4 linked regions of the Homo sapiens genome follow. The protein of the gene in region 4 interacts with the protein of the main gene of each other region in a pairwise test. Each region holds a gene or a part of one and is shown on either strand. Other genes may lie near its edges.

Region 1 (7,181 bases), on a different chromosome or scaffold from region 4:
TATCCACGTTCTCTGTCTCCTTCTCTGTCTCTCCCCAAGAATTACCCACCCTAAGTAAGATTAGCGACAGCCAGGCTGGGGCTCAGAAATAATATGGGAAATGGTGGGGTCCTGGCATTAGGGGACCTGCCTCACCTCCCCATTCCGGGTCTCAATGGTCTTGATCAGAACCGTCTTCCGGCTGTGGCTGTCCTGGGGAGGCTCCACCTCAGGCACTGAAGAAAGCAGGATAAAGGGTTCAAGGGGGAAGGCGTGGGAATCTCTCCTCTTAGGCTCCCACTGCTATCCCTGAGGGCAGGGGAGGGGCGGGTTTGAGGAGTAGGGGTGGGTACAGGCCAGGACCCAGAAGTTCCGTGGGGAGAAGAGATCCCTGAGGTGAGCCAGAGCAAGAGCCCGAGGAGGGCAGAAGTGGACAAGGAGAGGTACAGGCTGTAAGCCAGACTCACCAGTCGTCTTTATATTTAAGGAGGCAAAAGAATGGACGGGCACGGAGATCCTAGAGGCGAAGCAAGTTGTCAGCGCCCCTGCCCAGGCCCCGCCCTGCCCGGCCCAGTCCCGACCCCGCCCTGCCCCGCCCCAGCAGCTCCACCCTCACCGGCTCTCCTCGCCCTCCAGCAGCTTGCGGTAGGTGGCGATCTCGATGTCCAGGGCCATCTTGACGTTGAGGAGCTCCTGGTACTCCCTCAGGTGCCGCGCCATCTCCTCTTTTAGCTGTCGCAGCTCCTCCTCGAGCCGCGCAGCGCCCGCCTGGTAGCCCCCCGCCTCCAGGGCGAACTGCTCCTCCAGCTCTCTCAACTGCCTGAGCAGCGCCTCGTTCTGGGGTAGGAGAGTGGAAGGGGCCAGTTGCAGAACATTTCATCGTCCGCTCCCCGGGCCCGAGCGCGCAGCTTCGTACTCACCGTGCCGCGCAGCCCGTCCACCTCGCACGTTAGACTCTGGATCTGGCGTCGGGACTCGTTCATCTCCTGCTTGGCCTGGCGCAGGGCCTCGTGGTTCCGGTTGGCAGCGTCGGACAGGTCCGCGTACTGAGAAGTGGGGGTAACCCAGGCTTTAGTCGGCTGGGACGCGCGACACCACCCCAGCGTCCCGCCTCGCAGGCCCTCCCGGCTCTTGCACCTTGGACTTGTACCACTCCTCCGCCTCCTGCAGGTTCTTCGCGGCGATGCTCTCGTACTGCGCGCGGATGTCCCTCAGCGCTGCCGTCAGCTCGGGCTTCACCGTGGCTTCCACCTCCACCTGCTGCACCTGCTGGCTCTCCACACTCACCTGCAGGTCTCGCAGCTCCTACGGCCGGGAGCAGGCAGAGGATGGACAGCGGCGCAAATTCCACGCGGGCCACGCAGTTCGTGCACAGAAAAGAGAAGAAACGCTTGAACGAACAGAAGTGGGCGCCAGGGAGGGCAGGGCGTACAGCCCTGCGCCCCCGCGGGCGCGAGACCAGAGGCCAGGTTTCGGAGGTACAGCCCCGCTGCCCGCCGCCAGGTGGCGCAAGGGTGGGAGTCTAACCACCTGTAGACTAGGGTGGAGGGGCTGCGTCTACCCAGCATCGTCCTGATCCCCAGGGCGATGCCTCCGCTCCACCCGCCAGCTCCAGCGAGACCACCCCACAACCTCAGAAACCGCCCCTGATACCGGGCCCACTTACCTCCTCGTGCAGCTTCTTGAGGAACTCAATCTCATCCATCAGAGACTCAATCTTGCGCTCTAGTTCCAGGCGGGACAGAGTGGCATCGTCCACGTCCTTCGAGGGGTGGCAGTGGAGGTTCAAGATAAGTTAGGGGCTGCGCAGACCAAGGAAGGACCAGGCCTTCCCTGTCTGCCTCAGGAGGCATCTGGGTTACCCCCTTCTCCCCGCGCCCACCGATGCCACCTCTGGATACTGAGATCGGGGGTAGCGGTGGGGAGGCTGAACTCGGAGAGGGGCTCGGACTCACCTTGCGGAAGAGCACGAGGTTGTGCTCCGCGTCCTCCCGCTTGCGCGTCTCCTCCTCCAACCTGACGGGAAGAGCGTGCAGAGGCTGAACTGCGGGGTCGCCGCCCAGCTCGCACCCCAGACCGCACGCCCCCCAGGATCCGGTTAGAGGCTGTTCTGCTGCCCAGGACTCTAAATGGAGGGCTGAGGCTGTCTAATGGAATTGCCCCGCATTGTCTCTAACGGACTGGGAGCTGAAAAGGGGGTTTCCTCATTACTCAGGGGAGGCACAGATACCCACTTCTCCCACCTCCCCAAACACTCAGAGCAAAGGGGTAGCGGGGGGCACTTGGAGCCCGTGGGCAGGGATGCTGCCCGCACACACCTGGGTTGGTAAGGGGAGCCACACCCTTGGGCTGCTGATGGAGAGGGGAAGCGAGGGGAGGCAAGAGCAGCCGCCTCGACGGCCGCTTCGACCTCGCCTCGACGGCAGCGGCCCAGCCCTGCCCCCTGACCTCTGCTTGAGCGCCGCCAGGTCCTCCGCCAGCCCGTCGCGCTCCACCTGCACCCGGTCACGCTCGCGGCCCAACAGCTCCAGCTCTCGCCGCAGCTCGCGCAGCTCCTGCTGGCACAGCTGGTCGGCGCGCGCCGGCTCCTGGCCCCGGGCTTGGCTCAGCTCCCCGCGCAGGGCCGCGTTCTGCTGCTCCAGAAAGCGTACCTTCTCGATGAAGTTGGCGAAGCGGTCGTTGAGCTCCTGCAGCTCCTGCTTCTCGTTGCTGCGCGTGGCCAGGAACTCCTGGTTGAGGGCCTCGGCCATGGAGAAGTCGAGGCGCTCCGAGGGCAGGCGCAGGAGGGCGCCCGCTCCCGCTCGGGGGCTACGGAAGCTGCCCAGGCGCACCGAGGAGCTCGGGGACGCGGAGCCCAGCAGGCGGCTGCTGGAGAAGCGGGAGCTGGACGAGTAGGAGAAGGCCCCGGGGGATAGTGAGGGCGGTGGACCGAAGGTACGGCGGTATGAGGTGGAGCTGAAGCCGGCCCGGAGGCCCGACGGGTGGTGGCTCATTGCGGCCAAGGATGGGCAGTCACCGTTCGCAGAGCTAGGCCGGGGGCTGGGAAGGAGCCGCAGACCGCTGCGAGGCGGCTTTATAGCCCTGCGGTCTCAGGGGGGGCACGGGCAGCTCCTCCCACTGGCCTGATGGCCCGCTGGAGGGGGGTTGTATGGGGAGGGGGATGCCCCACCCCTGCGGAACAGCAGGAGCGCCTTCCCCTCCCTTCCCTGGTTGCAGGCCTCTACCCACTTGATTGCCCCCTGTTGCCGCTGGGGTGGGGGTCACTTCCTCCCAACAAGCACCCAAAGCTAGAACCTAGGGTAGGAAGGCCTGACTTGAACTAGAGTCCCTGAAAATTGCGAGGTAGAAGGACCTGAAGTTAAAGGGCAGGCTTCTGGCACAGGAGTAGGGAGGAGGCCAGCTGGAGGGAGAGTTGACCTGGCTTAGGCCCCATAGCTAGTGCCTTGACTTGCCCCCTGAAGGCCAGGCTCTATTTTCACCTGCTGTCAGCTACCCCTCCTTCACCACACCCAGAGAGGAATAGGAGACAGGGGCGCAGAGGCAGATCGGGCTGGGGAAGAGCTACTCTCCCTAATCCCCAGGGCCCTGTGAAGGGCTGGTGCCTGGCGCCAGCTCTGCTGCTAATGGGCTGACCAGCCCCCCTCCCCCTCCCCTGAAGACGGCCCAGCAGAGGTTGTCTGCTGATGTTTCAGCCTTAAAGACACAGCCCCCAAACCTAGACCTACCCCGCAACAAGCCCCAATGAGGTGGGTACATCATAGGGGGCTGAGGGTGGCTGGACCCAGCTCTGGATCCCACTCGGGAGGGTCTGCCCCATGCCACGGGCTGGGCTAAGTGGGCCTTTTGTATTCTGTCTTGGTTTACTGGATTCTCCCTCCCCCCAACCCCACACCAATTGCTGCTCAGTCATGGGCTTTACAGGAACCAGAGTGATTCCTGAGGTAGGAAGGGGAGGGGGCTGAGGGGCAACAGCGGCTGCCAAGGCTGAGAGATGGATGGACTGGCAGGAGCTGGTTTCCAGTATTGATGAGTTGCAGGTACCAGGGATGGGTGGGGCTGGATGGGGAAGAGATGGGGAAAGAGAAAGTGCCCATCCCCAGCAGTCTGAAAGAGAGAAGGCCCCAGAACAGGTCCACAAACCTGCGCACGCAAACAGATGCATACACACAGCTTTGTATATCTATGCGCACACACACTACATACACACACATACACACACAATCACACATCCCACCACACCCTCCCCTACTCCAGAGTTAGCGAGAAGGCTGATATCTGGCCTTTGTATGTCAAACAGCTTCCAGAATGCAAGCACAACCTGCCCAGGAGTGGACAGAGGCAGCTCGGATGGTCTGCAGGAGCCGGGTTGCTGAGGTCTGCTGGGTTTGCCAGGAACCATAGGGCTGGGGCTGCTGCTGCTGCTGGGGACTCCAGCGCTGTCCTGTGAGACAGGTCTGCCTCAGATGGGACCTGAGGACAAGAGAGTGCATCTGGGGAAGCAGGTTTCAGGTTCCTGCCTGGATATCTGGCTGGGGGTAAGGAGGGCGGCTCCCTGGCTGGCCAGCTCCTCAGTATTGCAGGGCAGCAGCCCCCTCCCCCCTTTGTGCGTCCTGTGAGATGGGCCAGGGCCAACGCCCTGCTCACGTCCCTACCGCCTTCGTCTCCTTTCCAGGCCCCTCCTTCCTTCCGGGCCATTAGTCTCTCCCTGCACAGCTGCCAGTTCCTTCTCCTTGATGGGTCTGGTTTGGTTGCCAGGGGAGTGGGAAGCGGGAGGAAGGGAGAGATGGGACAGGACGAATAAATGACAGCTTGGCCTCCCCTAACTCCTGGGAATTGGGAGGGGTAGGGTCCCACCCGGGATAGGGCCGGGAGGCTTGGTGGGTGTGAGGAGGGGCTAGGGAAGCCTTGGTGCTTCCTGCCGCAGTCCTGGGCACTGAGCCCCAGCTGCTGTTGGCCTGGAGCCCCATCTATCCCGGATTTGGCCCCACCCTCCAGGAGCAGGGAGCCAGCTCTGCATCAGGAGAGGCGGGCAAGGCCTGGGGAGGACCAGCTCAGGCCCTGTCTACAGGGCACTAGTGGGGGACCCAAGCCTCTGAGAGTAGAGGCTGCTGGGGCTGCAGCTGGGCCTGGGGAGTTCCAGATGGAGTTCCCGTCCTCACCCTGCTTAAGGGCTCCGCTGGCCACCTACATGCCTCGGAGGAGAAGGGACAGAGGGCTGCCACAGCAGGGCTCTGGAGCTGTGGATCAGGCCTGGGTGGGGAACTGCCAGGCAGAAGAGGCTCCTCCCCTAAAGCAGAAGGAGCAGGCCAGCAACTCCAGGCGGAGCAAAGGTAGGCAAAGAGTCTGGGTTAAGAGCCGGGCTCTGGCATCCAGCTGCCACACTTCCCATCTGATCCACCACTCTGTTGTAGAATTTAGGCTCGTCACTACGTCCCTTCATGTCCCTCAAGAAAAGGGAGATAACTAACTGTAGCTTCTACCTCATAGTGTTGTTGGGAGGACTAAAGGAATAAATAAATACATGTGAAGTGCTTAGGACACACATCTTAAAGCCTGAAAATGGAAGCTGGTTTTATTATTGCTATTATTATTAACCTCCAGAGTGATAATGTCAGCCCCAAGAGCAGTGAGAGTCTGGGCTTCTTTTGGACTGTGCCCCTGGTTGCTGAAAGTAGTGCTTGGACCCAAGGCGGAAGAAGCCAAGTCCTCCCTGGCCTCATCCTCCCCTGGTGGACCGGGACTCTGGGCAGATGGTGCAGGTTCATTCATGGCTGCTCACCTTAATTAGCTGTGTGCTTTGGGTTTTCTGAGTGACTTAACCTCTGTTCACCCCATTTTCTTTCTTTCTTTCTTTCTCTCTTTCTTTCTTTTTTCTTCCTTTTTTTTTTTTTGAGACATAGTCTCGCTCTGTCGCCCAGGCTGGAGTGCAGTGGCACGATCTCAGCTCACTGCAAGCTCCGCCTCCCGGGTTCACGCCATTCTCCTGCCTCAGCCTCCTGAGTAGCTGGGATGACTGGCGCCTGCTACCACGCCCGGCTAATTTTTTCATATTTTTGGTAGAGACGGTGCTTCACCATGTTAGCTAGGATGGTCTCGATCTCCTGACCGTGATCCACCTGTCTCGGCCTCCCAAAGTGCTGGGATTACAGGCATAAGCCACCGCGCCTGGCCACCCCATTTTCTTTATCCACAAATGGGAATGATAATAACAGTACTTACCTCATGGTGTTGGGAGGATTAAACGAGTTACCCTCTGTAAAGCACTTGTGCTTGGCACCTAGTACATGCTGTAGAAGTATTTGCCAGTATTCTCATCGCTCCTCCTCCTCCTGCCTCCCTTGGCTGCTCTGATGAAGGCTGGAAGAGAAACAACTATTGCATGTGTTCAGGGGTTTGCAGGGAAGGTGAGTAACGAAGTTTAGGTTACTGGCAAGAGTGCTATTTTTAAATTAAATTAAATTAAATTTTTTTTGAGAGAGAGTCTTGCTCTGTTGCCCAGGCTGGAGTGCAGTGGCATGATCTCAGCTCACTGCAACCTCCACCTCCTGGGATCAAGCGATTCTCCTGCCTCAGCCTCCCGAGTAGCTGGGATTACAGGTACCTGCCACCATGCCTGGCTAATTTTTGTACTTTAGTAGAGACGGGGTTTCATTATGTAGGTCAAGCTGGTCTCGAACTCCTGATCTCAAATGGTCCGCCTGCCTCGGCCTCCCAAAGAGCTGGGATTACAGGCGTGAGCCACCACGCCTGGCCAAGAGTGCTATTAAATGTCAGGCCACGGGCTCAAAGCTGGATTAGGAGGGCATGTAGGCAAGAGAGAGTGGGAGATTGGGAGAGTAAAGAGATCCATGGCTGGCCAAAGAACAGTCATAGAACAAAGACATGCCAGTGGAGCACAGTGGTTTACGCCTGTAATCCCAGCACTTTGGGAGGCTGAGGCGGGCGGATCACAAGGTCAGGAGATCAAGACCATCCTGGCTAACATGGTGAAACCCTGTCTCTACTAAAAATACAAAAAATTAGCCGGGCGTGGTGGCGGGCACCTGTAGTCCCAGCTACTGGAGAGGCTGAGGCAGGAGAATGGTGTGAACCCAGGAGGTGGAGCTTGCAGTGAGCGGAGATCGCGCCACTGCACTCCAGCCTGGGTGACAGAGCGAGACTCCATCTCAAAAAACAAACAAACAAATTAGCCGGGCGTGGTA
Region 2 (7,402 bases), on a different chromosome or scaffold from region 4:
TTTGGGAAGCCTAGGCGGGCGGATCACTTGAGGTCAGGAGATTGAGACCAGCCTGGCCAACATGGTGAAACCCCATCTCTACTAAAAATACAAAAAAATTAGCCTGGCATGGTGGCAGGCGCCTGTAATCCCAGCTACTCGGGAGGCTGCGGCAGAATCGCTTGAACCCGGGAGGCAGAGGTTGCAGTGAGCCAAGATGGCGCCACTGAACACCAGCCTGGGTGACAGAGCAAGACTCCATCTCAAAAAAAAAAAAAAAAAAATAGAAACGAAGTCTTGCTTTCCTGCCCAGGCTCGTCTTGAATGCCTGGCCTCAAGTGATCTTCCCACCTCAGCCTCCCAAAGTGCTGGGATTACAGGTGTGAGCCACTGCACCTGGCCCCTGCCATTTCTTTGTTGCAAAAGCCATACAATCAAATAGAAAACAAATTCACTGGCCATTGCACCACCTAACACTACCAGCTGGCATATCACTACCCAGCCCTTGGGAAGAAGGGCAAACTGACAGGAGCCCAGTGCCCCGTCATGCCCAGCCTGTGCTGGGTGCCCCCTGAACGGTCTCACTTAGTCTGCACCAGTGGGTGCTCTCTCACCTCCATTTCACAGATGGCAACAAAGCCTAGTGGCTCAAAGGCTGTGTCTGAGGCCATGCAGCCAGGAAGCCAGGAGCCTAGAAGCTGGTGGTGATTGTGATACCGCCCCCCCCCCCTCCTTACTTGCCCCACGTGCCGCAGGAGGCCATCTTTCTTTGTACTCAGGCAGTCTTTATAAAGTTAAGACTAGTGTGAGACAAATTTGTATCCTATTTCTTTGTCATACTGCAGCAAAAATGTTTCTGCTTATTGCTACACAGTTGTCACACAAACTACCTGCTAAGGACACTCTTGAGGATGAAGGTCCCCCATTTCCCACTTGCTGCCTTGTACTGGACACTAAAGCCCTTTCTGGTTTGGAGGGTTCTCATTAAGGCTGCAGTAAATGCTTGTGGGTAGGCATCTCTTCTTCATTTCATTCCTTCATTTGACAAACATTTATGGAGTTTTCTAGATGCCAGGATACAATGGTAAAAGGAGCACAGGCCCTGCCTTGACTGAAGAGATGGATAATAACCAACATCTGTGTGCCTCAGGAACAAATGAAGATGGTAAGAGGTATGGAGGGGAAGCAATGGTCTCCAGTTGGTCCAGATGGCCAAGTAAGGCCTCAGTCACAAGAAACATCAGAGGAGGGGCAGGAAGGTGAGAGGAGAGAATGGGCAGTGCAAGGGCCTGAGCAGGGGGGCACTTGGTACAATCCAAACATAGCAAGGCAGCCCGTGCCGCCCCAGTGCAGTGAGGGACTGAGGGCAGAGGAGCAGCAGACTCTCATGAGGACTTGGGCTTTTACTCAGAGAGGCAGGGAGGCATTACAGGAGGATGAGCCAAGGAGGAGCATACTCTGACTTGCTTTTGTAAATGGGCCCCACCGGCTACTCCTGGGGAAAGAGAGTGGGAGGAAGACAGGCTTGAAGCCAGGGGACCATGCCCAAGGAGGCTCTTCTGCCCAGTATGCAGATCCTGGTGGGGTCCAGACTACCCCACCATCCTCAAGCCCGCCCCCCAAGGAGGCCTACAGGACCAAGGCTGCAGAGCCAGTAAGAGGCCAGACCTTCCAGGGCTTCATGCTAGTTCCTGGGGCTGAGAGGCAGGGCTAGGACACATGGACACAACTAGTCATGTGCAAATACTCCACCCTCTGCATAAGGAAACCAGCCACAACTTAAGTGGAGACAGTTTATGTGAAAGGAGGTGTGCCCACCAACAAAACATCACGTTGTTGCCTGATGTTTGGAGCAATTTGGGAAAACCCCCACAAAAAGTGAAAAATGCATGAAATAAATAAAACTGTGTCCTCCATACCGATGAGGCACAGGGAAAGAAAAGTGCCTGGCAGGGCTGGCCGCAAGGGTGGTTGTGTTTCTTTCAAGGCTGCATCTACTCAGAAGAGGGACATTTCCACATACTGAGCATGTGCCACCCACTGGAAGCTGTGCTGAGGACCATGAGTGCAGGATCTCATTTAATCCTCACCACGACCAGGGAGGTGAGTGCAAGGAATCTCACAGATGGGGAAACTGAAGCTTAGAGGCACCAGCTAGCATCTGAAAGGACAGTAATGGAGCTGGACAGGCCCAGTCCCTGACCACAGTACTTCTCCCTACCTGGTCCAAACACTGATGCTGAGACTCACTCACCCATTGTCTCCACCAAATACATAAATGGCATCTTTATAGGCCACCACTGTGTGCTTGCTGCGCCTGGAAAGAAAGGAGTGGAGGGCGGTAAGGACAGGACCCTCCTGGGGGGCACCCAAGGAATGGGACTAAGCAGGAGAGCTGCCACGGAAGTTAGGTATCACCTCTCAACTGCTAAGATCCATCATCTTCTAAGATAACACCAATCATCCTGCAAGTGAGGACCCCTGACACGGCTCCAGGACTCTCTGGACTCCTCACCCCACCTCAGAGCACCTGGGACCCCAGCCCAATATCCACAAACACAACTTAGTTCCAGTACCCTGTCCCGGGACATCGGGCTCTGGGACTCCCTCGGAACCCTCTCCCCTGCCCTGAACAGCGTCCTGTACAGCACCATCCACCTCATTACCAGATCCTACCCCAGGACACCACCCCCCGGCTTCGCCCCTGGACCCGCCCTGGGACCCTCGCAGATCGCCCTTCCTGTCCTCAGGACCCCATGAAGCCCACCGTACCGGGCACCCACGAACTCGTCGCAGGGCGGGAGGCGCCGCCAGCGATGCACTGTTTCGAAGGGCCCGAAGTTGAGCGTCAGGTACTCGACACTGTCCGAGCAGCTATGGTCGAAGTCCACGCTCGGGGCTACCTTGGACCGCGCGCCGCCTGCCAGGGCCGCAGCCCCGATCTGCCCCCCCGTGCTGCCCGGTCCAGCCATCCCGGGTCCACGCCGGATCGGCCGCGCTGTAAGCCCAACTTGCGGCCACCGCCCCGGGCCGGCTGGAGAAACCACATTTCCCGGCGAGCCCTGCGCTGACGGTGCGGCACGTCCGGCCAGCGCCGCACTTGCGCCCTCCAGCTCTTCCCGACAAGCCTACCGCTTGCCGAGACACCGCGGGCGAGCGCAGGATGCGGTTGTCGACCGCGCGGCGAGCGTGGGACCTTCTGGGGAGCGTTTCAGGCTATGTACTGGCGCTGCGTTGTCCCTTCCAGTGAATGCAGTGTGTCGTCCCTAGCCCCGTCGCGACTGCTCTTCCCGGCGCCTCCCAGGCCCACGCAGCCCGAAGACCCGCGGCCGGCTCGCAGTTCCCGGCATGCCCTGGGTCTGCGCGTGGCTCCGGCCTGGATCGTCTGCCGCTGCCGGGATCCCCCATGGAGGGTTCCGGGCTCGCAGCGGCCTCTGCAGGCGGCTCAACGCTCCCTTTCCTGCTAGCGCCCTCAGCCCTGACCCCCAGCAACTCCCCTCTCCCCTTGGCTTTCTTACTGACTGAGAGGCAGCCCGGCGAGGAGCCTCTGGATTCTCATTCCTACTTAGCAGGGCCTCAGCTCCTTCACCTCCGACATGGGGATTGAGAATGCTCCGGCTATGAAAAGCATGGGGTCTGTCTCAGGACACAGCTCCCACAGCCCTAAGTGGGCAAATGCCCCAAAGTGTCAAGCATGAGCCACCTCTGAAGGAGCATTTACTATCTCAAGACCTTTGGGCATGTTGTCCCTTCTACCTGGAATACCCTTCCTTCAAAACTCAGAGCCAAAAGCAAAAAGCGTTCGCTGATCGCAGAGGGGGAGAGGGATGTGGGAGGGCTTGGGGCGCAGAATTAGTTGCTACCTCCTCTGGGCGTTCACAGGCCAAATTTCCTTGGTGTGGCACCTGGCATTCTGTGATTGTGCCTGTTTCCCTGTGGTCTGGTCCTGTGCCTATTGGCCCAATTACACTGGGAGTCATACAGATCTGCAAATTTGTGCGTTTTAATTTTACGGTAATGTTTAACGTGTTGCAGGGTTCTTCAGGGGACCAGTCCCAATAGAGGGAGAAGAGGCAGGGCTTGTCCTGCCTCCAGTGCCAGCTGTCAGTGGCAGCAGAGGCCTTGAGGGTTGAGCATCTTCTGGATCCAGCAGAGGCCTCCCAGGAGGGGAGCCAGGTGGCTGAAGGCAAGCACTGGGAGGGCTCAGGTTCTGCCCTGGGGGATCCTGGGACTGGAGATTGGCACCTGCCCCCAAGGCTTGGCCTGTGCCCTTGGTGCCCCCTTTGCCTGCCCAAGTCTACTGCATGTGAGCTCAGGATCCTTTCCCCGTAAGCCAGGACATGTCGCCAGTCCTGCAGGAGTGAGGGGAGGAGGGGTCAAGACAGAAGAAAACAGGCTCTCCACTCTGGGCACCCTGAACAGCTGGCCCTTGAGGACAGCAGGGGGTCTGTTCTGTGCCAGACCCTAGTGCCCAGCAGGGAGGTGTACTTGGACAGAGGGAGATAAGACCATTGGGTGGAGGGTCTGGGCTGACATGGGAAAGGCTCAGAACGGTCAACATGAAGGACACACGTACTTGCTGTGCAGCACAAACAGCCTTCACGAAGGCAAGAGAGAGAAACGGAGAGAAGGCCAAGGAGAGAGCATGTCATTTATCATGTCCCCTTCTGGTCCTCCATTGTTTCCAGCCTGAAGCCTGCCCCTGTCTCATAGCCTCCCAGTGGCCTCCAGGCTGTCCCCAGTCCCTGGGAGCTCTCTCCCAGAGGGTGAATCTCATTGACACCACACCAGGATAAGGGAACTGGCTGGTGTTGAGTGAAACCTAGAACCACCCCCACCATCTATGTGGAGGGCATACCCAGGGCATCAGTAGCTGCATTTCCCACCTAGCTTCTGCCAGGCTCAGCACAACTATGTCCAGTTAGGTGTCCCACGCCTGGTGATTGCCCATGCATTGGGCCCTGACCCCTTCCCACAGCACTGGCCCTGCCTGGTGACACACATCTCTATCCCTTCCATCCACCATGAACACATAACCAGCCTGCTCTCAAACCATGATCCTTGCCCCACACCTCCCTGTAGTCCTGTAAGCCTCAGGCGATGCAAACCAAGAGGGGAAAGGCCCTGGAGGGTTGTGGGGGCGGCTGGCTGTCATAGGCACCTTAGCCAGTACTCCAGGGAACTACTCCCACCCCCAGGCTTCCCACACCCACACTCACTCCACCTCCCGCTTCCGGATGGCACGGCCTGAGGCCAGCACCTCAGCGACCTTGGACACAATGGGATCGTAGTTCATGCTGGCCACGGCGATCACCTCGTCGCCTCTGCAAGGAGAGGATGGCCAAGCCTGAGGACTGCGAGGCAGCAGCCCCTTTTTGAAAACCCTGATGCACTGCTGTCCATCTGGGGCCCAGGGAAGGACCTACCCCAGGGCAACAAGAATGGCCTGAGCACCCAGCCCTCCCTGCTTTGCACATCGCGGCTTGACCGTGCACAAGCTTCGGGCTTTCCTAAGGAAGCTCCAGCACTCCTCAGCGGGGCTCAGGGCTGGGCTCTTGTTCTGGGATTTTGCCTGGGATGAATCCCCCTTCCCGACTGAGCTCCCGCTGCTTCGCGCCAAGCTGCACCCCGGTGCTCTCACTTAGTGTAAAAAGCCACAAACTTCAGCTCCTCCAGATCCCCCTGGATGATGACGTCGTCGAAGCCTTCTCCGTAGCCTGTGGGCCGGGCAGGTGGGTGGCACCCACGTGAGCCGGGGGAGGGAACGAGACGTCACAGGATCCCCTCCTAACCCCGCCCAGGCCCTGCTCCATACGTCCTTTTAGGTAGTTCGTAGCCTTGCCGCCAGCGAGTTCTTACCGGCCTCTTCCTAGTGCGGTCATAGCCCTGCCCCTAGGCTCCCAGCCCCGCCCCACACCCAAGCCCCGCCCCTAAACGCCCTCGGCCCCGCCCCCATCCGAGGCCCCGGGGTTACCCGCGTAGCGCAGGCTCTTGCCAAACATGGCGGTCCAGAGGTAGGGCACAGTGCTCATCTCCGCCTCCTGCGCCAACATGTTCTGGGCTGCCACGCGCCCTGCGGGACCCAGGGCCGTGAGAACCCTAACTCTCGCTCTTACCACTCCCACACTACCTGCTCCTGATGCCCTGGGGACCCCTGACACGTGTGGCTACTCCTCCTGGTCTCCCCAGAGGTCAAGAGACATCATTGTTCAGCCCACTGCTCACTTGCACCTGCAGCTGACTGGTGCAGGGGAACACCTGCCTCAAAGCTAGCCACTTGATTGCTTCCTTAAAGAATCTGAATAAAGTGCCCTGACTCTGGAAGGTCTGCTTCTTGGGGTTGGGGGAGTACGCCACCATTTCAGCTGTGCACACAGACACCTAATCAGACGTATCAGGTCTGAAGAGGGAGGAAAATGGGGCACAAGTACACAGGGAAGCACAGATGACAGCCACACACAAGGCCCCAAAGAGACCAGTGTGGATGGCTCCCCAGTTCCTATGAGGCCCCAGTAGACCCCTGTAGTTGGATGTACTTCAAAGTCCCCTAAACTCTCTCAGTTAAATCCTAATTATACTTGGCTGATAAGTTGCCTTGGTTACTTACAACCTAGCAACAACTTTCGACTTTGGACTTGAATAGAAATTGGTACCAGAAGTGGGGTTTCAAGCAGCAGACCCTCAGGTGTAAAGGCAGAGGAAAGGGGAGATGGGTGCAGAGAAGTCCTTTGTCCCAGGCTGGGAGTCTGGCAGTCCTCTCTCTGAGGCAGTGAGGCAACTAATGTGATGGCACCTGCAGCTTAGGGGCCCAGACCAGATGTGCACAGTGGATGAGGCTTGGGGGACTTGGTGGCCAGCAAACATCAGGAGGGGAAAGCTATTCCTCAGAAAGCACAGTGCCTCCACTGAGCCCACGTCTCTGGGCTCAGATGGCACCTCGGGGACCTGCATGAGGCTGAACTGAGTTCACAGAGATACTTGAGTGGCCCAAGGGAAACAGAGGCATAAATGGGAAGGTGATCCACTAAATCCCTCCCTCCCTCCCCAGGGTAATGCACAGGTTGATCAGGAATTCTGCAGAATATATGTCCTTGAAGACAAAAAAGGGAGAGACTACCAGAAGGAAAACTGAGATTGAGGAGCTATGGCTGGCTCAGTGGGGTGTCGCTCTCTGTGTTGGCTGGATCGCCGAGATGAGGCTGGCCAGAGAATCCACATCAGAGCTTTGATGCCTAACAGTGTCCAGGACCCAAGGTCAGCAACTGAGGCATGGGCATGGGGACACTGAGACCCTGAGACTCCCTCCCACCCCTCCATGTGCCTCGGGACTGGCCATACCCTGAGCATGAGCCATCTGCCAATGTGGAATGTTCACTTTGCGGTTGTTCCTCCAGGCAAGGGGGAAGGTGACAGCATCGCCAGC
Region 3 (5,227 bases), on a different chromosome or scaffold from region 4:
CTATCTTTCAAAAGTAAATGTAATAAAAATGCACAACATAAAATGTTTATGATCCCAGCAATACACTTTTTAAAAAATGTGAAAGTCAAAGAATTAAGTTCTAGTTCTGACTCATCACAAGAGGTCAAAAGTATTTGCTACTGTAACATTCAATTCACATTTGAGAATCATGGTAAAAATAACTTGCATTTGCCTTACCATCATGATCCTACTGTTGAGTTAGGAAAATATGGTTAGACAGACTCACATTACTTTTTTTCAGAGGTAAACTCTAGATTACTGTGTCAACCCAATACTATTTGGCCATAGATGTAAAAACTACCAAATAAAAGTGGATTTTGTGGTCTACAACATTTTGTGTAAAGTGAATTCATGTCTGCTAACACCGTTAAGTCTGCCATTTAATCCAGAGTGTTAGACTACTAATGAATATGGTAAGGAAAATATAAAATATTAACGGTATATGCTATTTGAGGAATTTTAAGTCTCACAGGCTTTAGTTTTATTTCCATACATGTTTATTATATACACACTGCCTATAGATTCTGTTTAAATAATCTCTAAGAAAAAAATCAAACTTTTCTGAGCAGGTGATTAAGCTGAAAACAACCAATTAAAACCACCACTTTTTAAGTGACCTTTGGTCACAAATGTCAAAATGTTTCCACACCCTTTCCACCCTCAAACAAGAGACAAACTGTTTTTGATAAACTCTAGTATTTATTAAATTATAAATTTTGTAATCAAAAAGAAAAATGCAGACCAAAAAAACCTCAAACTATAAGACTAGACAGCAAAGCCTATGGGAACACCATGAAGTGTGTTACAAACATTCTGAAACATAAGTTACTGGCTGTTTTCATTTCCATTTCAATAACTTTACTATAAAATAGTTGTTATTCATCTATTTTGAAATCCCAAATTCACATCTATTCATACATTAAATTATGTTTCCTGTTCATAATATCAAACATCTCACAGGTGCCAAATTTTAGTAATGGTCTTATGCCAATCCATGCAGAAAAATAAGACACAATGCAGGAGTCAGATGAGGACCATTAATGCACAGATAATACAAACACACTGGCCAAAAGAACTACAGAAGTTTTTAAAAAGTATAAAGTAAACAGACCTCAAGAAAACTGGGTTATTACTAAACAGCTCTCAACTATTAACACCCAAGTTCCTTACATTAAATAAATTTCTCAACAGAGACATGTTAGACATTTTAATTATGAGTCTATCCTTCCCATACCCCTTCCCACCCCAACTCCCAAAATGCACTACTAGGGATGAGTATAATGTTATGTGGGCAGAAATTTACAGGTAACCCTTTCAACCTTGAGCATGGAGCTGAAGACATTTTTATTTAAACTTCAGTTACTGTGCACTGTCCATCAGGCCTTCTAGATCTGACACTGACACTCACTGTTCCACCCCCTGCTACTGATCGATCAGTTCCCGATCGATCTGATCGATCGGGTACTGTCTGGTTTGCATTAGAAACCAAAAGTCTCTGTTGGGTCAAGGAGTGCTGTGCAACAACTGCAGATACATCCTCACTATCACTACTGGCATCTGATTCAGTTTCTTCAATGGAGGTGTCTGGTGCTGGTACCCTGCCTGAAGATGGTGATTCATGATCTTCTTCTCCTTCTCCCCTATGACTCCTTTCAGCTGTGTTGTCTCCACTGAGTTGTAAATGAGCAAAAGAGTCTTCCAGAGAAGTGCTTGCATCAGGGGATGGTGTTGCAGGGCTTGTTAACTGACCATCTACTGATGTTAGGGGCCTTACAGAAGACACTAGGGGCTGAACAGAAGCTCCACTCTGTGCTGATACACTGTCCGCTCCGTCAGCAGAGCTCTCTCTTGCTAGGTTTACGGTATTAGCATCACAGTCTAGCCTAAGTCCAGCTACTCCCTTCTTTGGTATATCTATTATATCTCGCTTAATCTTCCTGCGACGTCCATGTTCATTTCTCCTATATTGAACCATGTTTTCAAGATCAGCGACATACAGAAAGCCAGCAATTAACATTTCAGTGTTCTTTTTACCTTTGGAAAAAGCATCTTCCAGCTCTCTACTAGTGCGCTCATCGTACTGCCACCACCCATTTCTTCCTTCATAATACCATGCATATTCACCATTTCCTCTACTTGCTGCCTTGAGTTCTTCTGGTGACAACAAGGTTGGCTTGTCAAGGAAATCCTCGGGAATTTCTTGTCGACAAAGAGCACACCGCTTTCCAAGCCATGAAGCTCCTTTTACACATAGATAGCAGAAAACGTGCTTACAGGGCAGACTGACTGGATGAACACATGTTTGCAGACAAATGGCACATTCAGGGACGGTTAAAGAAGGTGCAGTATTAGAACAGGACTCGTTCGCTTTCCTGTTTGTAGGAAGCATGTTTATTGAATGATCAATTTCACCACAGCCAGCCATCCTAAGAAAAAATACATATAATATTAAAGTCATGTTTTAATTCTTGCAATATCTTAATTTAACAATTATGAAAACACTAACCACCTATGATGTGCATTATATGCAAGCCACATACTAGACAATGGGGATATGAAGATGAAAGTAGAGGAAAAACTCTCCAACCGATGAAAATTTTTTGTAAGCATCTACTTGTACATACCTTGGGAATGTATAAAAATTCCATCAGTGCACTTAACAGATCAGCCCTGGAGAAACACACTGAAGAACTATATAATGAAAAGCTGCATCCAGTGAGGGGAAAAGGATACCTTGAATCATGGCAGCTATTATACAGTGAAATGAATGCTAGACAAGAAATCTAAAAATCTGAGTTTTAGAGTCCTTTATTAATTATGTGCTCTTAGGCACTCAGTTAAACCATTAGTCTAAATTTCCTTACCTGCAAATCAGAGTTTACAAAGCTCAGGTAAAAATGGACAAAAAAAGTGCTTTGTAATCACTAAAGCTTCATAAAGGTAACAATCATATAAGACCAAAGGAGAAAATAACATGAATATTGAAGATCCCCTGAAGAGGAAGAAGAAAAAAGATTTGTCAAATTGGATGTATCTAGCTTAAACACTGACATAAAATTTATAATTTCTGCCTTATTGATTCAGATAAACATTTACTAAACACCTGCCATGTTCCAGATACAATACTAAGTACTGATGGGTCTAAAGATAAATAAGACACACAACTACTCTGTTAAATAAGGAAACATACATGCAGATAATTACAATATGGCCTGATTCCTGCGTAATCAAAATGTGTTAACATACTTACTAAAATAACAGTAAGAGAGAGATGAGAGGATGGACATAGGTTAGAAAGTTTAGTGTTCATTCAGAGGGGCTGGGCAGTGGAGCAGATTCCAGGCAGAAGCACATGCAAGACACTGAGTCAAATAGTCATACAAGCAATGGAAGAGCAGGAGATGAAGGTGTAAAGGTAATCAAAAGTTAAGTCATGAAAGCCTTATTGTGTTATTGTGCCCTGCCAAGGAAACATCTAATTTTTTTCCCCATGGTAAAAAAAAAAAAAAAAAGACATTTTAAAAGGGGAGAAAATAATGGAGTAAACCACTGATAAGTAAAAAAGACTGAGAAATAAAGATGAAGATGTCAGAGATTGAAAGCTTAAAATGAATGACAATCTCTCTGCCAGCTAATTCTGCCATTCTAAATGGGTCAGTAGTTACAAAAGATATAGTCAACAAGAATGCTTACGCTCATCAAAAATTGAAAAACAATAATCCTAGGCTATCATCACAGCACATTCAATCTTCAAACAATCCTTTTTTTTCTTTTTACTGCCTTTTCTGTGTTCTTGGTTCCTCAATAGACAAGGCTCAAAAAGATGGCAATTTTCTAGTAAAGGAAGCAACACAGTAAGTTTTTAAAAAGATGGCACATATCTAGTAAAGGAACCAACACAGTCTCAATGGAAGAACTGATCACTAAAATGTTTAATTTCCAAATTATTTTCAACTTTTAATAACATTTCCAATCAATTCCTTTACCAGAAATTCTAGGTTATAGACATCAAGAAAGTACAACTTTCTCCTAACCTATGGAAAGTTCTAAGTCAGGGGTGTCTAATCTTTTGGTTTCCCTGGGCCACACTGGAAGAAAAAGAATTGTCTTGGGCCACACATAAAATGCATTAACACTAATGATAGCTGATAAGCTAAAAAAAAAAATCACATAATGTTTTAAGAAAGCTTATGAATTTGTGTTAGGCCGCTTTCAAAGCCATCCTGGGCCACATGTGGCCCACAAGTTGGATAAGCTTGTTCTAAGTAAACCCTAATAGGACGTCTTAGTATGTTAAGCACTATAAAAGCTTTCAAATATTTTGAGATAAACACTTGCCTTCAAAGATCTTGTAACTTGAAACAACAATAAGTTACAAAAGAAGGCATATGTTTTTAAAATAGCCAATTACACATTCCCTGCCTATTTCCTCCCCTAAAAGAATTGGCTGTGCACACATTTTGTTAGGTTTTCAGAAACTTTCATCCCTTTCGATTTAGGTCAAAAAAGTTAGTTTCCATAAAATTCCTGAAAATCTTTTTGTTCCAAGTTCCATATTTATTTAAAGCTCCAATTAAGAAAAAGAAAACAAGAAAGTGATCCATTTACAAGTAATAATTTAAGAAAGATTCTACTCATGATTCTATTCATGAGACTAAATAGAAAAATGGGCTGATGACCACCATTACTTTGGAAAAACAACAGCAACATCTTCATATAAGAAGTCTACATCTTAAACCATCTAAGTACCTTATGAACAAAGGACAGGATCATAAACTGAAAACATAAATAAAAACAGAGTCTGGTAAAATGAAAACAAGACACCCAACATGTCACGTGGACCAATGCCATGCTTTTAAATACATAATTCCAAACCTATTGTATTTGCTTTAAGTAAAATGGGCCCAAGAAGTCAGTTTTCCATCACATACAGCTCGTTTATCTACAGAAAAAAAAGTTTCCAACCTAAAAACATTATCCTCCACCCTACTTAATATGATTAATATTTTGCATGACTCTTACTCTTGCATTTATGAATAAACCAAAACACATAATTTCAAAACTAAGAAAGCAATTACAATCATCCCAGGAGAAGGCATGAATTATAATAACATAATTGGAAAGGCAAAACAATCCTGTTTGTGCAGGTATTTTGGTTCCATCATCAGAATGAAGTGAAGTTGGACAAAGTTAATCTGCAAACAAT
Region 4 (7,028 bases):
CAAGGCAGGAGGATCACTTGAGCCCAAACGTTCAAGACCAGCCTGGCCAACATGGTGAAACCCCCATCTCTATTAAAATACAAAAAAGTTTGCCAGGCATGCTGGTGCAGGCCTGCAGTCCCAGCTACTCAGGAGGCTGAGGCACGTGAATTGCTTCAACCCGGGAGGCGGAGTTTGTAGTGAGCCGCGACTGCTCCACTGCACTTCAGCCTGGGTGACAAAGCAAGACCCTGTCTCAAAAATAAAATAAAATAAAGGTACCTACCCTCTCCTGACCTATGAATCAGAAGCTCTGGAAGTAAGGACTTGGTGCAAGTGCAGGTTTTAAAATTTCCTCATGCGGGCCAGGCGCAGTGGCTCACATCTATAATCCCAGGACTTTGGGAGGCTGAGGTGGGAGGATCACTTGAGCTCACGAGTTTGAGACCAGCCTGGCCAACATGGTGAAACCCCATCTCTACTAAAAATACAAAAATTAGCTGGGCATGGTGATGTGTGCCTGTAATCCCAGCTACTTGGGAGGCTGAGGCGGGAGAATCGCTTGAACCCAGGAGGCAGAGGTTGCAGTGAGCCGAGATCACACCATTGCACTCCAACCTGGGTGACACAGCAAGACTCCATAAAAAGATAAAAAATAAAAAATAAAATTTTCTCATGCGATTCTATGCTTAGCCAATGTTGAAAGCCAGGAATATAGTTAACAACACAGCTGACTAAATGTCTCATTTCGTGTTATCACATATCCATGAGACAAATGTTAATATAAGCCACAGAACATATATGCTCCTTTGAAAAATTACTGGTCACAATTTAAGTCGGTGGCACCAGCACAATTCAAAATGAAGAAGACTGTGCACCAGGAGTCGGAGGCCTGGCACTGACCTCACTATGGCTACTCACTGTGCCACACCAGGCAAGCCAGACAAGTCAGCTTGCTGAGTGTTTGCTTCATTTATAAGAATGAGAAAATAATATTTGTTCTGCTTTCCTCATAAGATGATTGTGTATAGAAATGAAAGTATAAGTTATGAGCCATACTAAACTACAAGACACAAAATTTAGTCAGAATTAGTTGATTCCTAGGAGTTATTGCAAACGATAGAGACAGATCCAAAATGCTGATTTTCAGAATTTAAACCAAGATCCCCCCTTTATTCAACTAACTAACCAACTAAAAACCACCTGTCTTTTAGTTAGATAGGAAAATGGGAAGGCAGTTCTGCCTCTGTTAATGAAAACAGAGGCTTTTCTTTTCTACTTTCTGCCTTCAACTCTCTGCAACATTTCTTTCCAAGCTCGGTTCTTAACTCATCAAGACATCAAGATAAAAACAAAAGTCAAGTAACTCAGTGTCTTTTTTTTTTTTTTTTTTTTTTTTGGAGACAGAGTCTTGCTCTGTTGCCCAGGTTGGAGTGCAATGGTGTGATCTCGGCTGACTGCAACCTCCGCCTCCCGGGTTCAAGCGATTCTCCTGCCTCAGCCTCGTAAGTAGCTGGGACTACAGGTGCATGCCACCACACCCGACTAATTTTTGTATTTTCAGTAGAGACGGGGTTTCACCATGTTGGCCGGGCTGGTCTTGAACTCCTGACCTCAGATGATCCACTTGCCTTGGCCTCCCAAAGTGTTGAGACTGCATGCGTGAGCCACTGCGCCCGACCAAGTAACTCAATTTCTAGGAAACTAGTCCAATTTTGCCTAAGAAAAAAAAAAAAAAAAAAAAAAATATATATATATATATATATATATATATATATACGATGAAACACAAACCTCAGCCACAGTGCTGCGAATGCGATCCACCACCTGTTCAAAGTCCACCAAGCTGAAGAGTGGCTGCTGCTTGAGACGGTGCAGCTCTGCAGCAAAAGTGTCTTCCTGGTTTTTCAAAATGGATCCTGCAAAATAGGAAGACACCGTCAAAGGAGGACGGAGAATACCCAGGACAGTTAGGGTTTTCTGGGGAGGGCTAATCTCAGTGGGGCAGCAACTTCACCTGCTTCTCAGACAAACGTCATGATTCTGCTACAATCTCAGGATAGGAATATTATCGACCACTCGCTCTGACCAGGCATGCTGTGGGGCCACATAGTATTAAGGAAGAAGAGATTTTGAGGGTGTGGTACATTGGACAAGGAGATTTCTACCTTTTCTAGTCAGGTTCACATTTTGATTCTCAAACATCTGGACAGATTCTCCAACAAATAGGATTTTTTCAGCAACCCTCACTGGAATGTAGGATGGCAAAATCTCCACTCGTAGGGAAAACTGCTTCAGAGATGGTGCCAGCATGTTCTCTTCCTCAATCAGGCGCTAGTCAAGGAAAGAGTACACATCGAGATGCAGTGTGAAGCAAGAAAAGGAAAACAAGAAAATACCTAGTAACTCTCCCAACCCATGATTTAAAATAAAGACGCAGGGACTTCAAATCTGGTGTTGCACAGTTCTCAAACCACCCATTTTGGAGAGATGTATTTCATCTTCAGGCAGCAGAGTGGCATGGTGGAAATAAGAGTGGCTTAAATACTGGGATTTGGGCCCTCACTCTGCCTTTACTACTGAGTAAAAACTTGCACAGTCGACCAGCTTCCTTACTTGTACGATGAAAGAGGTGGTCTTTTTTGTTTTCCAGGTCTTCTCTCTATGTCTTCTCTGCTGGTGCTCCTCAGGGCACTGTCCCAGACTGTCTTTTCCTCTCAGCCTACACTTCCTATACAATCACATCGTCTTCTGTGACTGATCAGTGTAACAGATAGTTTTAATTTTTAGGTCACAGACCTCTCTGCAATCATAAAAGCTATGGATCTTCCAGACAAATGTACAGACATATAACATTTCATGAACCTCCTGAAGCCACCCAAGGGCCCCAGATTAAAAACCTCCAAGCCCCATGCTGATGATTCCATATGTAGATTTAAAGTAAGCTGGAGTGCTCTCATGAGCCCCAGGCTCAGCCCACTGAACATTTCCCACAAGTTCCTCAAACTCAACATGCCCCCCATTAGACCCATCTTCTTCCCCGCATACCAGCAGTATACACCCCTATCGTCACTACTTGCCCAGCTGCTGAAGGCAGAAACCTGGGTATCATCAATGATTCTTCCCTCTTGACTCATTTCCAAGCACTCACTAAGCCTACTGATTCCACCCTCTAAACATCTCTCACACCTCTTTGCTCTTTTTTCATATTCAATGTTAGTATCTTTGGTTTAGGGGACTATTATTTTCACCTAAGTCTCCCCAACACTCTCTTAACTGATCGACCTGCCTCTAATCTTGATTTTTAAAAAATGATTCCCCACACAGCATCCAGAGTGATTTATCATGAAGTCTGACTGTGGTACCCACTTGCTTAAAATTCAATAGCCCCCAACTCTTTTCAGGTTCAAGTACAAACTCATTTCCACTGTTTACATGCACCTTTGTGATCTTGCCTCTGCTTAACTCAAGTTTCATCAAGTACCAACTTACACAGTTTCAAGTACCACCTCTCCCTCACACCATCTCTTGTAACATTTTACTTCAGCCTTTATTTGATCATTTCAATTGAATTACTACTGTTTCCCCAAATGAACCATGTCCTTAATGGCCCCTGTACCTTTACACATATCATTCCTTCTGCCTGGATGTCTCTTGATGGCTCCTCCCAAACTCTTTGCAATTTAGACATACCTTCCACTGAAAAGCCTTCCCTAGTCACTCCAAGACCCTATCCCATGACCATGTTCCAAGAATACCCATATTTAGTCTTTTCAGAGCCCTTAGCACACTGTAATGTAACTGTTTACTTTTCTATATCTCTTCCCCTAAACTATGAGCTCCTTAGGGACAGACACTACTACTTTTTATTTGTAGCACCTAGAACAATGCCTAGCACATAACAGGCATTCAATGAAATATTGCCACAGGATAAATGAATGAATGGATGGATGGATGAATGGATGAATATGGACAATGTAGAACTTTGAGGAGTCTAATCAAAACACCAAACTGGCCAGGCACGGTGGCTCATGCCTGTAATCCCAACACTTACAGGCCGAGGCGGGTGGATCACCTGAGGTCAGGCGTTCGAGACCAGCCTGGCCAACATGACAAAACCCTGTCTCTACTAAAAATATGAAAATAAAAAATATGAAAATTAGCTAGGCATGGTGGCACATGCCTGGTTCCAGGTACTTGGGAGGCTAAGGCAGGAGAATTGCTTGAACCTGGGAGGCAGTGGCTGCAGTGAGCCAAGATTGCGCCATCGCACTCCAGCCTGGGCGATGGGTGAGAATCTGTCTTTAAAAAAAAAAACAAAACTCCAAACTGTATTTAAAATCTAAAATGTAGCTAGCTGCTCCATTAGAGTAGCTACATAAGTAAGACTTATAATCTCTCAAATGCATATATTGGGAAAGAGGAAACAAAAAGAATATCACAAACATATTTTCTATTTTATAGTCTCACACTAGTTAAGATAAAGCCGAATGTTTACATCGAAAGGATTGATGGAAGGTGCTCAGCTATGAGCTAAGAAGGGATCACCAGAAGATCATTTGTGTGCATGCTTTTCTGACTCCTGGCAGGAGAGTGCTAGGCTACTTTTTGGGCTCTCACCAAGTCCTGCAGTTCTCTCAGTTGTTTTCCTGTCAGTCCCCCAATGCCCAGATCCTCCTCGTCCTCTTCTGGCTGGGCACTGACATTACCAGAAGATGGCCCCTGTTTGATAAAGAATTCTTCATGCTGGTCCAAGAGGAGTCCATGGAGCATCCAGGCTGAGAGCTGTTTATACATGACCCCATGACAAACGGCCAGGATTCTGGGCAGAGTAGAAAGTAAGAGGCTCAGAAGTCATGCTTTAAACTGTTACAGGATAAACAGAGGCCTGAGAATTTGATGAGTCATAACAGAAATAACCAATTAAGTTAAAAATAATTGTGCTATTTTAATTTAAATGTGGGTGAACTAACTCACTGAATTTCCATATTTGCAGCCTACACAATGAAATCTAAAATGTTCAGTATATGTGCTGATATTATTTTAGGGAAGACATTTTCTTCCCTTCTTTTATGTAATTTTCAAAACTGATGGGTCCTAAATATGTACAACTGTTTTATAGCAATAAAAAATAAAAATAATAAAAAATTTTAAAAATCGACTTAATGGAGTCTCTTTTTGGCTAACACAGTATTAAATTTGTTTTATTTTTGTTGGAATCACTTAGGGAGAGAATATTCAATACGTGAGTGCCAGGTATACATGAAAAACCATTATCTAGCAAAATTCAGAAACTAAAACAAAATGCAGAATGGTTGTTGGGGAATAGGATATTCAGATGGTCTCAAAGGATCACCCACCAGATAGCATATTAATTAAAAAGGGGAAAATGTACCTCTATAATGGAGCAGGACGTGATGAAAACACCTAAGCCAAGTGATCCAACTTCATAACATCCGTGATGGGATAAAGTTACTTTCTGTACCTTCTAATATGATGTAATGGGAAATAATATCACCTACATAGTATTCTTGCCAAAAAATGTTTAATCTGAATCTAATCATAGGGAAACAATAAATCCAGATTGTGAAACATTATACAGGACAGCTGGTCAGGACTCTTAAAATGTCAGCGTCATCCAAAACACCAAGAACAACAAAAGGCAAGGGGGACGGTTCTAAATTAAAGGAGACTAAAAAGACATGAGAACAAAATGTAGTATGTGAACACTGATCGGATCCTGGATTGCAAAAAAAGAACAGCTATGAAGGAATTCTGAGGGACAACTAGAAAAATTTGGATATAGTATTACTGAATTAATGTTAACTTTCTTGGGTGTAATATGGAATTGATGTTCTATAAGAGAATCCCTTTTTCTTTTATTTTTCTTTTTTTCTTTTTTCTTTTTTTTTTGAGACAGGGTCTCACTCTGTTGCCCAGGCTGGAGTGCTGTAGCACGATCATGGCTCACTGCAGTTTCGACCTCCTGGACTCAAGCCACCCTCCCACCTCAGCCTCCTAAGTAGCTGGGCCCACAGGCGCACACAGCATGCCTACTTTTTTTGTATTTGTAGAGACGGGGTCTCACTATGTTGCCTGGGCTGGTCTCCTAGGCTCAAGCTATCCACCCACCTTGGCCTCTCAAAGTGCTAGGAATACAGGTGTGTGCCACCATGCCCAGCCAAGAATGCCTTTTTTCTAAAGTGATACAAGCTGAAGTATTTAAGTGTTAGGGTATCTGTGACTACTTTCAAATGACTCTGCAAAAAAATTTGTGCATTTCACATATACGTATAGAAGGAGAAAAAGAGAAATCAAACGTGGCAAATGTTAACAAATGGTGAAACTAAAGGATACACTAGCGTTTGGTTGGTTTTTTTTGTTTTTTGTTTTGAGACAGGGTCTCATTCTGTCATCCAGGCTGGATTACAGTGGCGAGATCTCAGCTCACTGCAGCATCAACCTCCTGGGCTAAAGCAATCCTTCTGCCTCAGCTTCCCGTAGCTGGGACTACAGGCAGGCACCACACCTGGCTAATTTTTTTATTTTTGGTACAGACAGGGTCTCGCTATGTTGCCCAGGCTGGTCTCGAACTCCTGGGCTCAAGCGATCCCTCTGCCTCAGCCTTCCAAAGTGCTGGGATTACAAGCGTGAGCCACCGAGCCCAGCCTACAAGTGTTTTATTATACGTTTCTTTCAACTTTTTTGTAGGTTTAAAATTTTTCAAAATAAAAGGTTGGGAGAAAAAGAAATTACAAGAACTTGACTGTGTTATTTAACTGAATGGAATCTCTCTTTAAAAAGATCAAATGTGAAGCTATTTACATTTATGCATTTCTGAGTATGTGGTCTGTAAAGTTTGGTCCCTGCAAACACAGAACAAACATGTATATATAGTATCATCTACATTAGATTTTATATTCTATACACAAAAGTATAATAGAGAATTAAGTCCCTAAGGAATGTTCTGGAGGATTTACTCATGCAGTGGTTAGAGTGGAGATTAAGAGTTGTGAGTGGCCGGGTGCGGTGGCTCACACCTGTAATCT

The links.
Region 1: the proteins of TUBGCP4 (region 4) and PRPH interact in binary tests that used the Homo sapiens proteins (3 or more experiments, as listed by UniProt).
Region 2: the proteins of TUBGCP4 (region 4) and LZTR1 interact in binary tests that used the Homo sapiens proteins (3 or more experiments, as listed by UniProt).
Region 3: the proteins of TUBGCP4 (region 4) and RNF146 interact in binary tests that used the Homo sapiens proteins (3 or more experiments, as listed by UniProt).

What each region holds. Positions count from the first base shown.
Region 1 is NC_000012.12:49,290,992-49,298,172, reverse strand, and holds the start of PRPH (peripherin), read right to left. Parts: upstream 3,027-7,181; 5' UTR 2,973-3,026; coding exon 2,428-2,972; exon of another isoform or gene 1,996-2,427; coding exon 1,935-1,995; exon of another isoform or gene 1,742-1,934; coding exon 1,646-1,741; exon of another isoform or gene 1,589-1,645; intron 1,458-1,588; exon of another isoform or gene 1,285-1,457; coding exon 1,117-1,284; exon of another isoform or gene 1,026-1,116; coding exon 900-1,025; exon of another isoform or gene 817-899; coding exon 596-816; exon of another isoform or gene 497-595; coding exon 447-496; intron 216-446; coding exon 136-215; intron 1-135. UniProt on the Homo sapiens protein: Class-III neuronal intermediate filament protein.
Region 2 is NC_000022.11:20,977,921-20,985,322, reverse strand, and holds the start of LZTR1 (leucine-zipper-like transcriptional regulator 1), read right to left. Parts: upstream 3,027-7,402; 5' UTR 2,952-3,026; coding exon 2,752-2,951; intron 2,297-2,751; coding exon 2,234-2,296; intron 1-2,233. Other genes in the region: AIFM3 (apoptosis-inducing factor 3), read right to left, coding at 4,292-4,331, 4,556-4,576, 5,199-5,303, 5,621-5,696, 5,954-6,052, 7,318-7,402. UniProt on the Homo sapiens protein: Substrate-specific adapter of a BCR (BTB-CUL3-RBX1) E3 ubiquitin-protein ligase complex that mediates ubiquitination of Ras (K-Ras/KRAS, N-Ras/NRAS and H-Ras/HRAS).
Region 3 is NC_000006.12:127,283,836-127,289,062, reverse strand, and holds the end of RNF146 (E3 ubiquitin-protein ligase RNF146), read right to left. Parts: exon of another isoform or gene 3,715-5,227; intron 3,014-3,714; exon of another isoform or gene 2,886-3,013; intron 2,448-2,885; coding exon 1,370-2,447; 3' UTR 501-1,369; downstream 1-500. UniProt on the Homo sapiens protein: E3 ubiquitin-protein ligase that specifically binds poly-ADP-ribosylated (PARsylated) proteins and mediates their ubiquitination and subsequent degradation. May regulate many important biological processes, such as cell survival and DNA damage response.
Region 4 is NC_000015.10:43,381,076-43,388,103, reverse strand, and holds part of TUBGCP4 (gamma-tubulin complex component 4), read right to left. Parts: intron 4,802-7,028; coding exon 4,600-4,801; intron 2,314-4,599; coding exon 2,148-2,313; intron 1,899-2,147; coding exon 1,774-1,898; intron 1-1,773. UniProt on the Homo sapiens protein: Component of the gamma-tubulin ring complex (gTuRC) which mediates microtubule nucleation.